2 linked regions of the Homo sapiens genome follow. The protein of the gene in region 1 purifies or fractionates together with the protein of each later gene. This does not show direct contact. Each region holds a gene or a part of one and is shown on either strand. Other genes may lie near its edges.

Evidence for each region.
Region 2: the proteins of RGS20 (region 1) and AARSD1 purify together in Homo sapiens (affinity purification with mass spectrometry, with the first as the bait; 2 studies listed by BioGRID). This does not show direct contact.

What each region holds. Positions count from the first base shown.
Region 1 is NC_000008.11:53,936,372-53,939,871, forward strand, and holds part of RGS20 (regulator of G-protein signaling 20), read left to right. Parts: intron 1-3,204; coding exon 3,205-3,353; intron 3,354-3,500. UniProt on the Homo sapiens protein: Inhibits signal transduction by increasing the GTPase activity of G protein alpha subunits thereby driving them into their inactive GDP-bound form.
Region 2 is NC_000017.11:42,954,455-42,957,954, reverse strand, and holds part of AARSD1 (alanyl-tRNA editing protein Aarsd1), read left to right. Parts: intron 1-759; coding exon 760-817; intron 818-1,394; coding exon 1,395-1,551; intron 1,552-1,634; coding exon 1,635-1,751; intron 1,752-1,982; coding exon 1,983-2,113; intron 2,114-2,730; coding exon 2,731-2,797; intron 2,798-2,987; coding exon 2,988-3,079; intron 3,080-3,500. Other genes in the region: PTGES3L-AARSD1 protein, read left to right, coding at 760-817, 1,395-1,551, 1,635-1,751, 1,983-2,113, 2,731-2,797, 2,988-3,079. UniProt on the Homo sapiens protein: Functions in trans to edit the amino acid moiety from incorrectly charged tRNA(Ala).

The sequences.
Region 1 (3,500 bases):
CCTTAAGCTGATAAGCAACTTCAGCAAAGTCTCAGGATACAAAATCAATGTGCAAAAATCACAAGCATTCCTATACACCAAGAACAGACAAAAAGAGAGCCAAATCATGAGTGAACTCCGATTCACAATTGCTTCAAAGAGAATAAAATACCTAGAAATACAACTTACAAGGGATGTGAAGGACCTCTTCAAGGAGAACTACAAACCACTGCTCAAGGAAATAAGGGAGGACACAAACAAATGGAAAAACATTCCATGCTCATGGATAGGAAGAATCAATATCCTGAAAATGGCCATACTGCCCAAAGTAATTGATAGATTCAATGCCGTCCCCATCAAGCTACCACTGACTTTCTTCACAGGAAAAAACTACTTTAAATTTCATATGGAACCAAAAAAGAGTTTGTATAGCCAAGACAATCCCAAGCAAAAAGAACAAAGCTGGAGGCATCACGCTACCTGACTTTAAACTATACTACAATGTTGTAGTAACCAAAACAGCATGGTACTGGTACCAAAACAGATATATAGACCAATGGAACAGAACAGAGGCCTCAGAAATAACACCACACATCTACAACCATCTGATCTTTGACAAACCTGACAAAAACAAGCCATGGGGAAAGGATTCCCTATTTAATAAATGGTGTTGGGAAAACTGGCTAGCCATATGCAGAAAACTGAAATTGGGTTCTCACTCATAGGTGGGAATTGAACAATGAAAACACTTGGACACAGGGTGGGGAACATCACACACCAGGGCCTGTCGTGGAGTTGGGGGGAGAGGGGAAGGATAGCATTAGGAGATATACCTAATGTAAATGATGAGTTAACGGGTGAAGCATACCAACATGGCACATGTATACATATGTAACAAACCTGCACGTTGTGCACATGTACCCTAGAACTTAAAGTATAATAATAAATAAATAAATAAATAAACATAAAAATAAAATAAAAAAAGAAAACTGAAATTGGACCCCTTCCTTACACCTTATACAAAAGTTAAATCAAGATGGATTAAAGACTTAGACATAAGACCTAAAACCATAAAAACCCTAGAAGAAAACCCAGGCAATACCATTCAGGACATAGGCATGAGCAAAGACTTCATGACTAAAACACCAAAAGCAATGGTAATAAAAGCAAAAATTGACAAATGGGATCTAATTAAACTAAAGAACTTCTGCACAGCAAAAGAAACTATCATCAGAGTGAACAGGCAACCTACAGAATGGGAGAAAATTTTTGCAACCTACTCATCTGACAAAGGGCTAATATCCAGAATCTACAAGGAAGTTAAACAAATTTACAAGAAAAAAACAAACAACCCCATCAAAAAGTGGGCAAAGGATACAAATAGACACTTCTCAAAAGAAAACATTTATGCAGCCAAAAGACACATGAAAAAAAGCTCATCATCACTGGTCGTTAGAGAAATGCAAATCAAAACCACAATGAGATACCGTCTCATGCCAGTTAGAATGGCAATGATTAAAAAGTTAGGTAACAACAGATGCTGGAGAGGATGTGGAGAAATAGGAATGCTTTTACACTGTTAGTGGGAGTGTAAATTAGTTCAATCATTGTGGGAGACAGTGTGATGATTCCTCAAGGATCTAGAACCAGAAATACCATTTGGCCCAGCAATCCCATTACTGGGTATATACCCAAAGGATTAGAAATCATTCTACTATAAAGACACATGTACACATATGTTTATTGAGGCACTGTTCACAGTAGCAAAGACTTGAACCAACCCAAATGCCCATCAATGATAGACTGGATAAAGAAAATGTGGCACATATACACCATGGAATTCTATGCAGCCATTAAACAGGATGAGTTCATGTCCTTTGCAGGGACATGGATGAAGCCGGAAACCGTCATTCTCAGCAAACTAACACAAGAACAGAAAACCAAAAACTGAATGTTCTCGCTCATAAGTGGGAATTAAACAATGAAAACACATGGACACAGGGAGAGGAACATCACACACTGGGGCCTGTCAGTGGATGGGGGACTAAGGGAGGGATAGCATTAGGAGAAATACTTAATGTAGATGACGGATTGATGGGTGCAGCAAACCACTATGGCACGTGTATACCTATGTACCTATGTAACAAACCTTCAGGTTTTGCACATGTGTCCCAGAACTTAAAGTATAATTTAAAAAATAAAAATAAATAAAATAATTAGAACAAAGTCCAGCAGTATAGAGAATTAGGTAATAATCAATAGGAACAGACAAATCTAATGTTGAAATAGAATAATAGATCCAGAAATTAATTCTAAAGTCTTATTTATGGTTCTTTAATGTGTCCTTGATATTAGCTTGCAATTAGCTCCATCAAGTGATAGTATCCAACGTAAAATGGGCTTAGCAATTTCTTGCTTCTCATGCTGCTTTTATATCTCTCTTCTTTCACATTCTTGGAGTCCCCAACAACAGGGCAGAGGCTGAAGGGCACAGATCTTTTGTGTCGTATGGCTTGGCCTCCATTGAAGTAGGTGAGGGTGACCATCCCTGGTACGGAAAGACAGGTCCGGGCAGGCCACAGTCTGGCTCTCCTGCCTGGCTTCCTGGGAATAATTGAGCAATTGCTCTGTACCAGGCGGGGTTCTGAATGCTTCCACGTCCCAATTTCAATCACTTCTGCAAGGTGACGCAGCTAGGAAAGATGTGACTCAGGCCACTCTGGCATCCAGGACTCACCTCCTCTTCTGACCTCTCGTCAGCCTGCTGTATTAGCTGGGCCGCCCTTCCCATGTTGACCTCCTCCCATATCTGAGCGTTGGCCTCACAGGCAGCGTCATGAAGCTGCCACCATCCCTGTCCCCCTTTGGTTCAGGCCACAGGGATGCCTGGAGCTGGGAACGGCCCTGCGTAGCACTGACTGCAGAGTCTTCAGTGCGTGTGTCTCTGTCTCCTTTACTGAACTGTGAGCGCCTAAGGAGGGGCCTTCCATCTGCTAGTTTATCCCTGGAATGTATCTCAATGCTTGGCAGAGGATAAGCGTTACATGTTGGATACATTAATTGATCCTAAGATTCTAAGCACTAAATTTTACGAGAAGTAGCAAAAATGACCTGAATGTAGTCGCACTGTATCTTTTCAATGATCCAAACAGCTGACTCCCTGGGCTTACGCCTTCATAACGCTGGAACCCCCTCCCGCCCGCTTTGTTCCTCTCCCTCTTGCAGCAGATGGGATCAGAGCGGATGGAGATGCGGAAGCGGCAGATGCCCGCCGCCCAGGACACACCAGGCGCCGCCCCAGGCCAGCCCGGAGCGGGGAGTCGCGGGTCCAACGCATGCTGCTTCTGCTGGTGCTGCTGTTGTAGCTGCTCGTGGTAAGGTTTGGGGCTTTTTAATGAATGTGCTCCTGACTGGGAAGTGTAATGTGCTCCTGACTGGGACGTGGCACCCCTGAAAGTGGTGGCAGCTTATGGTTAATTCAATAAGTGTTTTTTAAGCAACTACTATATGCCTGACACACA
Region 2 (3,500 bases), on another chromosome or scaffold:
CCTTGATAGTTCCTCCTCTTTCTCCTTTTCTTCCTCCTCCTCTTCCTCTTCTTTCTCCTCATCATCACTCTTGTCAATCAGGGATGCTGCTGTATCTCTTATGTCAAGCCCTGTGCCTTGCATTTGGTAGGTACTCAATAAATACTTGTTGAATGGATGAATGCTGCATATTGGAACTTAAGTTCACTGGGCACAGTGGCTCACACCTGTAATCCCAGCATTTTGGGAGGCCAAGGCAGGTGGATCACTTGAGGTCAAGAGTTCAAGACCAGCTTGGCCAACGTGGTGAAACCCCATCTCTACTAAAAGTAGAAAAATTAGCCGGGCACGGTGATGCACGTCTATAATCCCAGCAACTCAGGAGGCTGAGGCACGAGAATTGCTTGATCCTGGGAGGCGGAGGCTGCAGTGAGCCCCTGCACTCCAGCCTGGGCAACAGAATGAGACTGTCTCAAAAAAAAAAAAAAAAAAAAAAAAAGGAAGTTAAGTTCAAGTCCAGCCCCTTATAAGTTACATTGCCATGGCAAGTTATTTGATCTCTCTAGGCTTCAGTTTCCTCATCTGTGAAATGGTATCATAAGGCCTCTTGCAGAATTCTCATTGTGATTTTCAATAAAGTATCTAAAGTGTATTACCCAGTGCTTAGCAGGTCTTCAACAAGGAGAATTTCTGTGCTTTTATCATTGTAGCTCATATTTTATCATTGTGGGAGTATGTAGGCTTCTCACTTTTCTCCTGTCTCTGGCTCTCTTTGCTTAGGGCAGCATCTCATCACGGCAGTTGCTGACCATCTATTTAAGCTGAAGACAACATCATGGTGAGTGGGAGGCATAAGACTAACTGTAGGCAGGCCCATCCCAGCACTGGGAGGGAGGCGGAGGTGGGAGAATTGCTTGAGCCGGGGAGATTAAGGCTGTGGTGAGCTGTGATTGCCACCAAATGGCAGCATGGGTGACAGCGAGCTTGTCTTAAAAAAAAAAAAAAAAAAGGCCAGGCGCAGTGGCTCACGCTTGTAATCCCAGCACTTTGGGAGGCCGAGGCGGGCGGATCACGAGGTCAGGAGATCGAGACCATCCTGGCTAACACGGTGAAACCCCGTCTCTACTAAAAATACAAAAAATTAGCCGGGCGTGGTGGCGGGCGCCTGTAGTCCCAGCTACTCGGGAGGCTGAGGCAGGTGAATGGCGTGAACCCGGGAGGCGGAGCTTGCAGTGAGCCGAGATCGCGCCACTGCACTCCAGCCTGGGCGACAGAGCGAGACTCCGTCTCAAAAAAAAAAAAAAAAAAAAAAAAAGTGGTGAGAGGGTATGCTTGTTCCAGTTTTTAGAGGAAAAGCTTTCAGCTTTTTCTTGTTCAGTAAGATATGTTATCTGTGGCCACTGTACTTCTGACAGGGAGTTAGGGAGATTTCGGAGTGCGATTGAGCTGGACACCCCCTCTATGACTGCAGAGCAAGTAGCTGCCATTGAGCAGAGCGTCAATGAAAAAATCAGAGATCGGCTGCCTGTGAATGTCCGAGAACTGAGCCTGGATGATCCTGAGGTGGAGCAGGTAAGGGTAGAGCCAGAGGGATGGTTTCTGCGGAATGATTCCTCATCAGATTCAGACAGTCCCTCCCCTCTCCTTGAGTCCAGGTGAGTGGCCGGGGTTTGCCTGATGATCATGCTGGGCCCATTCGGGTTGTTAACATCGAGGGCGTTGATTCCAACATGTGCTGTGGGACCCATGTGAGCAATCTCAGTGACCTTCAGGTAAGTGAGGAACGGCTGTGGAGTGGCTGAGAAGAGGGATTGGGGGAGAGGGGATCACATGGGGCTGGGAGTGGGAGAGGGGGATAATCGAGGAGTCCTAAGTGAAATCTCCCCTTCACTGTTTCAGAGCTGAGGAACAGATAGGTTTCTCCTGCCTTCAGGTTCTAGGATCCGCTGTGGTTTATGCATGTGCACACGTGTGTGTGTGTGTTACCCCCTTGCCTCATGTAGGTCATTAAGATTCTGGGCACTGAGAAGGGGAAAAAGAACAGAACCAACCTGATATTTCTGTCTGGGAACCGGGTGCTGAAGTGGATGGAGAGAAGTCATGGAACTGAAAAAGCACTGACTGCTCTGCTTAAGTATGCCTGTTTCAGTACCTTCGATTACCTCCCATTTCTGAGATTTTCGACATAATCTCTTACCTCTGGGAGATAAGATGCAATCGTAAATGATAAAGTGCGGCCAGGCGTGGTGGCCCACATCTGTAATCCCAGCACTTTGGGAGGCCGAGGTGGGCGGATCACGAGGTCAGGAGATCAAGACCTTCCTGGCTAACACCGTGAAACCCCGTCTCTACTAAAAATACAAAAAGAACTTAGCCAGGCATGGTGGTGGGCGCCTGTAGTCCCAGCTACTCGAGAGGCTGAGGCAGGAGAATGGCGTGAACCCGGGAGGTGGAGCTTGCAGTGAGCCAAGATCGTTCCACTGCACTCCAGCCTGGGCGATAGAGCAAGACTCTGTCTCAAAAAAAAAAAAAAAAAAAAGATCAAGTGCTTTGGATAGTAAATCAGAACCACGAAAAGTGGTTAATTCCTTTGTATGTTTTCTCCCAGTTGCCTAAGAGACCTCCTCAGAATATCTCCTGGTCCCTGACTGCAGGGAGGCACCATAGCAAGAAGGAAATTATTGATTTATGTCCCCAACATCAGAAACGACTGGGAAGCTGCGCAGGTCTCCTCTGACCTTTCTCTTTCAGGTGTGGAGCAGAGGATCATGTGGAAGCAGTGAAAAAGCTCCAGAACTCCACCAAGATCCTGCAGAAGGTGATTTATTCCATGGAGGGTAGAGAGGGCATGGGCCCTGCCTAGGATAGGCTCTGCAGACTTGGTCTTCTGCCTAAACAGATGTGTAGTTTGTCAAAGTGGGAGTGAGGGGAGAATGAGGTGGAGGGAAGCTGATACTCTCTATTGTTATCCTTTCCATTTATCTACTGAGTTACCATATCCATTTCAGAATAACCTGAATCTGCTCAGAGACCTGGCTGTGCACATTGCCCATAGCCTCAGGAACAGTCCAGACTGGGGAGGTGTGGTCATATTACACAGGTGAGAAATTAGGAGCTGGACACAAGGAAGGGGAACTGTGTTGGGCTTAGGGCTCAGTGTCTTCTCTATATGCAATGTACAGTGGGAGGTGGATTGCTCACTGGTATTCTCAAGGTTGAGTAGATCCTAAGAAATATGTTACTGGCCGGGCGCGGTGGCTCACGCCTGTAATCCCAGCACTTTGGGAGGCTGAGGCGGGTGGATCACAAGGTCAGGAGTTCGAAACCAGCCTGGCCAGCATGGTGAAACCCCTTCTCTACTAAAAGTACAAAAATTAGCTAGGCATGGTAGTACGCGCCTGTAGTCCCAGCTACTCAGGAGGCTGAGGCAGGAGAATCACTTGAACCCGGGAGGCAGAGGTTGTGGTGAGTGGAGATCACGCCACAGCACTCCGGCCTGGACCAACAGAGTGAGACCCCAT